Regions from separate parts of the Homo sapiens genome. Here all the other regions are linked to region 2. The links come from fine-mapping of genetic effects on gene expression. A gene starts in region 2. Each other region holds a variant in brackets. All regions are shown on one strand. Distances are between the middles of the regions.

Region 1 (2,765 bases), 25 kb after region 2:
TTTCCTATTGCCATTAGATCATTTTGCTTCCAGAGAAATGGACATGTAGGTTGGTCACAGACCTGAACTCCAGATGCCAAGAATGGACTAGAATATGTTAAGGACACGTGATCTCTTTTCTCAAACCCTCATGGTTCTAATTTGTATCTCTCAAGGCCTCAGCCTAGTAGTTCACCACATCAATTGTGTGATTTGTGTTGACGTAACAGTAGTCATATATAGCCCAAGAACTGTCTTAGGTGTTCAGGCACTCTTAAATGATGTGTGCTTATTTGCCAAGCCTCAAGACTAGCTTGCTTTGTCTATTTCTTCCTGTGCCTCTCCTGAATAAAGGGTTTCCATAGTAAGAAGCTGCCATATCCCTACCCTTGTATACTGTCTCTAGTTTCCCCTTTTTAAGTTCTCATCGGGGCATCACTTCTACCTGAGTGATGAAATAGATCAGATTAATGGAATTCTATGCTCAGAATCCCATCTACTGCAGTAGACATTTTCTCTGTTAGCCAAGCACTAGAGGAACATTTACCAGGTTCTTAATCCTAACCAAAAGACATATATTTGCCCCTTCAATTAACCTCCTAGAAAGCCTAGCACTGATTGACTCCACACCCAGGTGCCAACAACAGCTGTGATAGGAGTCCTCAGTTGTTTTCTAAAAAGCCAAAATTCTTGGACATGATTACAAACTGTGGTCTGTATAAAAGAAATAAACCTACAACAAGAAGAAAATCCCTGAGTTTAAGAAATGCTATATCATGGAACAGATTGAATAGAGTAGTGAGCTCCACATCACAGTCAGTTTATAGGAGCTCACTGTAAACTGCTGGGACACTGGGCGAGACATCTTAAGTGATGGATCACAAGAAGATTAGGGAAAGCTTTTGAAGTAGAATGGTAGTAAAGAGTGAAAGAAAATTCAGGATATGCTTGAAACTGCCGCATGTGTTCTGAATGCCACAAACTTAGGCTTGTGCATTATTGCATAAAGGGCTGCAGAAAGCTTGAGGATCCAAACAGCCTCTTCCCCACTCACCTCTGATCCAGGATATTCCTACCCTGGCTGCCCTGTGTAAATTCACCTTTCTTCAGGAGGCAGCCTCAGCTGATGCTTGCCTCATCCCTCCTCTCACCAGCCCTGGAAACTAACTGGGCATACCTTTCATGCCTTCGAGAGTGGTGGGTTTTTTTTTAATTCTTCATTTACTTTTCTTCTTAATTAGCACTGCTAGAGATTTAATTGTTAGTAATCTTTTCAAAGAACAGGATATTTGATT[T/C]TGTTGGCTGTTTCTTTTTAAAATATTTATTTTACTCAATGTATTGCTACTGAAAATTTCTTGGCTAAGATCAAATGTCATCTCCATCAAGGATCTGTTGCCAGTGACTCTTTTTCTTCCTGTTTTACCAAAACATCTCACACAACTGCCTGTTCCTTCACTTTCTGGTTTTGTTTTTGAGCCATTATGGACATGCTGGAAAATGCACAAATCTCAAATGTTCAGTTAGATGAATAATTACAATGTGAACACATGAACACACCTATGTAGGAACAAATCAAGATATACATACTATTGCTCTCAGGCTGGTAAGGCATACTGTTTTCAGAATGCTCTGTCCAAGTTCTCCTAAGACATATTTCTAGCACTGCACCTGCCTTTGTTTTTAATCCTGTGGAAACATTCACGTGCAGATCTGGAGGGCCAATCACCGAAAAGTAGCTTTAAAAAGTTCGACCGGACATGGTGGCTCAGCCTGTAATCCCAGCACTTTGGGAGGCCGAGGTGGTAGGATTGTCTGAGCTCAGGAGTTCAGCCTGGACAACATGGCAAAACCCCGTCTCTACTAAAAATACAAAAAATTAGCTGGGCATGGTGGCGAGCACCTGTAGTCCCAGCTACTCAGGAGGCTGAGGCATGAAAATTGCTTGAATCTGGAAGGTGGAGGCTGCAGTGAGCCAAGATCATGCCACTGCACTCCAGCCTGTATGACAGAATGGAGACACCATCTCAAAAAAAAAAAAAAAAAAAAAATGAAAAATAAATAAATATAAAAATAAAAAGTTTCTTAATGTCAATAACTCATGATTCACAAAGCACAAGACCTGTGAGGATTTTTCATTTCTATTAAAAGAGTGGGAAGTACATAATTCAAGTTGAAATTGTCTTAAAGGTAAAAGAACTAATGCATAACTCATTTGAGTAGAGCCTTTCCCTTTATGACAACCCTGTGCCTTTTCCTGAGTACCTCCACTGTCCAACCAAGCATACTCCCAGTCACCCCTATTGCTTGGATTATTTTCTTATAACTTCTCTTGGTCCCTGAAAACTGTTACTCCACCAGCTCAAAATTGGACTTACCCTTTCCTGTCTCTGCTTTGAAGCAAAGTAACCATATTTCCGTTCCCTCTCCACCTCCCTCATCCAAACATCATTTCCATAAGGTCTTGATAGCAGATATACCACCAGACCTAGACAGCCCTATATGGGAGGCATGAGGCCTTATAACTTTCATTCTGGGGTGACCCAGCCTTGATGTCAGGTCATCAGCCCAACATTCGATCTCTATCAGCCCAACACCTGATTCCCAGGTCAGTTACCTACATCCTTGGAATCTTCTCTATTCAACTTTCCCTGATGGGTTGATGCCTGGTAGTCTACATTTCTTTTACTCAGAAGAAGAGGGATTTGTACAGGACTCTTCAAGAGGAGCAGGAAAAAATGACACAAAATCAATGAACAATGGATAGTCATGGGGAGAAGTATTTTCTT
Region 2 (2,765 bases):
CTCTCCAGCCTTCCCCACATGAACGCAAGCCCCCACCCCCAGCTACCCTGATTGCCAGGGTTCTTGACAGTCCGTCATAGTTACAAATTGCACCTTACACATGAAAATGATCTCCCCATTAACTGTTTTAACTTCACAGAGATTCCAGAGCAGTACAACCAACTTGACCTTCAGCTCCTTAAAGGCAGAGACTATATGTCCCATAGTTGTAATCCCAGCACCCAGTAAAATATTGTCAAGAAAATTGATGTTAAATAAATGTTTAAAATGGCTTATTTCAATTAATCCATTCATTATTCTATTAGAGCAGCCATTTCTCCAAAACTGGGTGAGACAGAGGGTACAGCTCAGACCTAAGATACTTTTGTTTTTTCTCATAGACCTATTTGTTGCAGGAAATTTCTGGGCCTCACCCTTCAGAATTTTAACCATGGCCGGGGCTCAGACACTGGCATGAGCATTCTGGAGTATCTGTCCTAACAATTAAGATATTATATAATTTGGAACCGAGCTTCAATTGGAAGATTTCCTGGTTATTTTCTATGCGGATAGGAGGTGCCTTCACTTGCTTATTAAAACCTAAGTGTCAAGAGAAGGACAAGGCCCTGGGAGTACAAAGAAAAACCCATATCACTGTCTTAAGTAACAGTTTTTGTGTGTGCGTGCATGTGTCTATGTGTTTGGGTGAGGAAGGGATACCAGTTGTTTAATTTTTTTTTCCTTTTTTAATGACAATTTTTGACCAGGGTTTCCATTTCTCCATCAACTCCCGGTCTCTGTTGTCTGTTTTTCACTCTAAAAGTGGATTGTGGCAATAGTGATGACAAGCTGGTTGCTGAAGTAAAAACGAAAAAAGAGAGGGTTTTGTTTTGTTTTGTTTTGTTTTGTTTAAGAACCCAGTATTTAAAGCCTGGAACCATGAGAGGTCGCGAATCTTGCCAGGAACAGCAGAGTCCACACCATATGTGCGCCCAACCCTTTGCTAAGATGGGTCACAGAACCAGACTTGGCCAATCTCAGGCTTCTGAGTTTAACAAGTCAAACTGGCAAATGAATAGCCACCTGAGCCTCTCTTAATGCAGTGCCTGAGCGGCATCATTTGGGAGCCTCAATCCTTTGACCTATCCTAGAACTAACTCCTAGAACCCTCTACAGTTTAAGGGAATCTGAGTCGGTGAAGGGACCAGAAAAACCCAGGAAGTAGAGAAAAAACATTGACATGCCTAGAAGCGCCGAAACCCCCGTCTCATCACCAATTGGCTAGGGGTACCCTGGTCCCTGCCTGTGATTGGCTGCCCCCACAAACACACCGCCCCCTGGGCGAAGCCAACCTGGGCCCAGCCGGCCGCTCATTGGCTGCCGTCCCGCGAGCGGGGCCTAGAGCCGGGTGTAGTATTCTGGGAGCTGCGGGCTACTGGGCCTGCGCTGCCGGGCTTTGGGTTCTGGGCCTCTGCCGCTCTCTGGCCCTAAGTGCTGAGCTGCCGGGAACGGCAGCTTCTGACGCTGGGCCATTGGACGCTGCGGAACCAGGCTTCTTCACTTTGAGTTTCCGCCGCGAAGCGCCAGTCCGGGCCGAGGAGGGAGGTGGGTAGATAACTCTGCCTTTTCTGAAGTCAGATCCCGCACGCTCACTTTACCCCCACCCGCCCGCTGTCCTGGGGACCTGCCCAACGCCCTGTGGCCAGGCCAGGAGCTGCTCCCTGACTCCGGAGGTTACCGCCCGCCCCTCGACTCCCTTCCCGCTGGGGTCCTAACTGGAAGTCTTCCAGGCCCCGCCCCCTTCTCAAATGCCCTTCTCAGACTCTCGCTGTACCCTACGGAAGGCACAGTCAAAGCAACCGAACGTTTAATTATTTGAATTTTCTCAAAGTAATTCATGTATAATAAAAAGTCAAACATTAAAGCAGGTCTTATTTTGAAGAGCAGTAACTACCCATCCCCAGATCTTTGCAGAGGCTGCCACTTTTAGTTTGTCCCCATTTAGATGTTTTTAGCACCCTAAATCAAAATAATATGCGTTCCACTGTATTTCTGGATTTATCATTTTGATATTTCTTTGCCTTACTTTCTTACTGCCACAATCTTGTCAATTTTCCATCGCTATTTTAGGTCTTCCATTTGTAGCTTTAAATAATGGGTATCAACTTCCATTTATTGTTTTATTGACTTTAGATGGTGTCTCTTAATGTCTCTACTGACTTAGCTAAGGATATTAACACATCCTCCACTTTCAATCTACTATCGGTTGGAACTCAACATTTACATTTAGTTTTCACGTATTCAACAAGTATTTGAGGCACTGTTCTTGGCACTGGGGAAATAGAAATGGACAAAACAGACAATGACCCTATCCACATGAAAAAGTTCTAGTATGGGAAGTAAGACAATAGACGAATACATGGCAAATGACGTCAAAGGCAGGATCATGTAGAAGTCATTTTCAGCTGGGAGAATAGCAGGCACCCAAGTCAGGTAGATTGAATGGACGAGGGGTTTGCGGGAGTGTGTGGAAGTTTATTCCTTTGCCTAGCTGGGCACAGGTGCTGTTTCAAGGAGAGATCTTGTTAACCGGGAGCCAGGATAGATTATTTAGTAAGTTAGTGATTTACCAAAATGAGGTTTTAGGATACTGGATCCCACAGTTTGGTAGTGATAGTGGGAGGAAGAAAAGCAGGAGGCAGGGAGTCTAGTGAGAAGGCATGCCCTGCCAATGGCATATCAGAGTCCTGCAAGATTTACTGCTCTGCTTCCTGCTTCCTGCTACT
Region 3 (2,765 bases), 42 kb after region 2:
TAAAAAAATAATAAAATAAAAATGAATAGCAAACCTTCCCTCCCTGCAAAATGAAACCTATGGCCCCTAGGGAGAAGCAGATCTAAGAAGAATTCTTCATGAATAAGTAACCAGTGCTGAGAATATGAAAAAATGGTGGGAGCACTATTGCCTAAAGTCACTCTCTACCTGCTTTTCATGGCTTTCATGAGCACAGGGCTTCCCTGCTGCCCTGAATGTATTTCTGGGGACATACGAACCAGGGCTCTGAGTTCATGCAAGTGTTAACTAGGCACTGTTTGTTCCAAGGCAATGCAGGCGACTAACAAGGCCCAAACTCTCAGTTTGCTTTCTATTGCATCTTCCCATAGCTGTGCTTGAATATCTCCTGTTTCTGGCCAAGGCTACACCTCAAAAACTTACCATTACTCTTCAGCCCAGCCTTCTTCGAAGTCTAATTTGTGTTTTTGTACAGGTGGTACTTCTCAGACTGACCTTGGTAAAAAGGAGCTAGCAGTTACGCTAGTTTGCCACAAACCTCACACCTAGAAAGTTTTGGGGATGCTTAGAACTCAGTCTTTAAAAGCTGCTCTTAACCCTGTATGTTCAACTTTGATTCTAATAGGCCCTTCTAAGATTCGTCCATGTTTGTGGCATTTGTGTAATGGATTCTGTATTACAGACGAATACTGACTTTTTTTTTTTTTTTTTGAGGTAAATGAATCTACTTGTAAAACGCTAAGCTTTTAGCCAAAGTTATTCAATAGGACTCAAGGCATAGAGGTTGCAGTCTGAGTAGGAAGCTATGTTTCACTGGAGAAGAAAATTTCTCAACCCTGGTAAGGTCATGGTTGGGACAGACTCCTGTAACAGTGAACAGATTTATCAAGAAAACAAGTTTATTAATGTGTCCTGTCGTGCATATCACAAGGCCAAAACTTCAAAAGATAACCCTAGGCTTAGACCTTTAGGCTTATGTAGCATCTCCAGCATGCCCCCCTACTCCCCCCCTCCCCCGCCCCCCACCGCAAAAAAATAAAAAAATATACTTGTAGAGAAACAACAAAACAAAGTGACCTTTAGGCTTCCAAAGGCAGGAAACTGGAATGGTAAATACCTGAGAAGAAACTATAATGGAGTAAGGTTTGTAGACTGATAGCCTATTTTTAGGCAGAAAGTGGGGAGGAAAGAGCTCTCCTGTTTGCTGCTTAATTGCTTTAGTTCAAACTTCTTATGTTGAGGCATATTTTGGGGTAACATAATCTGGTTTCCTTCAATCTCATGTATGAATTAAAAGTTCAGCACTGTCACTAAGGATGGGAAAAGACCATTAGCTATAACTGTCCTAATCTCGAAGCCTTAGTTTTGGGCTGACATTTTCCTTTTAGGTAAGAGCCATAAAATAATGAACATCTGCCAAGAGTGGCTCTGGAGTAGGGGGTAGAGTAGCCTTAGGGAACACAGTGGGGCCTCCACACAAACTATCCACACAACTAGAAATTCAGCTGAGTGACCGAAAGACTGAATTTCCTGAGTTAAGATAAATGTGAAAACTTGAGTATTTCTCGAAGAACCCAGAACTATCCAGTTTTGTCCCAGCAAAGGTCAAGCACTTAGTCACATTTCTTATATCCTCCCACTTGTTCTGAGTCCAAGAATTGGGAAG[G/A]GGAGAAAGGAGCAGTTCAGAATAAAAGCCTTAAAGCCAGAAGTATTGAGTTCTGTATCCATAACTAGGATTAACATAAAAATAAGCTCCTAATGGAGAAAATCAAGCTGGATTGTAACTGTCAATCTACTAGTCCAGAGAAGTTAACAGCTTATTCCTATAGCTGTGCTTTCATGCCCTTTAAGTGTATTAACCGCATGTAATGCCTATAAACTTCAAGGGACCTGCTCTGCATTTAGGCTGTACCTTGAACTCAAAATGCTATAGGAGATGACTAACACCAAGTCATTCAGATTTATATCTGCACTAGAGCTGACCTCCCTAGAGTGAAAAAGGGAAAGCATTGAGAAATTGAGTGTTGTGATGGTTACATGGCGTTTTTCTTTTTTTTTTTTAATTCTGGGATACATGTACAGAATGTTACGTAGGTATACATATGCCATGGTGGCTTGCTGCACCCATCAACCTGCACCTATCAACCCATCTAGGTTTTATGCCTTCCATGCATTGGGTATTCATCCTACTGCTCTCCCTCCCCTAGCCCCCTACCCCTCGACAGGCCCCAGTATGTGATATTCCTCTCCCTGTGTCCATGTGTTCTCATTGTTCAACTCCCATGCATGAGAACATGAGGCGTTTGGTTTTCTGTTCCTGTTAGTTTGCTGAGAATGATGGTTTCCAGCTTCATCCATGTCCCTGCAAAGGACATGAACTCATTTTTTATGGCTGCATAGTATTCCATGGTGTACATGTGCCAAATTTTCTTTATCCAGTCCATCATTGATGGGCATTTGGGTGGTTTCCAAGTCTTTGCTATTGTGAACAGGTCCGCAATAAACATACATATGCGTGTGTCTTTCTAGTAGAATGACTTTATCATCCTTTGGGTATATACCCAGTAATGGGATTGCTGGGTCAAATGGTATTTCTGGTTCTAGATGCTTGAGGAATTGCCACACTGTCTTCCATGATGGTTGAACTAATCTACACTCCCACCAACAGTGTAAAAGCATTCCTACTTCTCCACATCCTCTCCAGCATCTGTTGTTTCCTGACTTTTTAAAAATCGCCAGTCTAACTGGTGTGCGATTGTATCTCATTGTGGTTTTGATTTGCGTTT

Which allele goes with the higher level. Positions count from the first base shown, and alleles are read on the strand shown. Sizes are in standard deviations (SD) of each study's normalised expression. Not every link is listed here.
As copies of G replace A in region 3, the expression in subcutaneous fat of the gene that starts at base 1,380 in region 2 goes down (moderate effect, 0.42 SD a copy in TwinsUK).

What was found. PIP is the estimated chance that this variant, and not a neighbour inherited with it, causes the effect.
Region 1: its variant is the best candidate, but not a certain one, in a credible set for the expression of TRIM68 in whole blood (INTERVAL, PIP 0.53).
Region 3: its variant is the best candidate, but not a certain one, in a credible set for the expression of TRIM68 in subcutaneous fat (TwinsUK, PIP 0.55).

The regions. Positions count from the first base shown.
Region 1 is chr11:4,581,697-4,584,461 of GRCh38, reverse strand. OR52I2 (olfactory receptor family 52 subfamily I member 2) reads right to left here and starts at 2,719. Exons shown (of 2, transcript NM_001405760.1): 1 at 2,598-2,719. The variant T/C (reference allele first, on the strand shown) is at 1,275.
Region 2 is chr11:4,606,846-4,609,610 of GRCh38, reverse strand. It overlaps TRIM68 (tripartite motif containing 68), which reads left to right and starts at 1,380. Exons shown (of 7, transcript NM_018073.8): 1 at 1,380-1,584. RefSeq lists silencers at 1,216-1,425, 1,736-1,815.
Region 3 is chr11:4,564,694-4,567,458 of GRCh38, reverse strand. No RefSeq gene overlaps it. Among named protein-coding and RNA genes, the nearest start is that of C11orf40, 12 kb to the left of the region's middle. The variant G/A (reference allele first, on the strand shown) is at 1,646.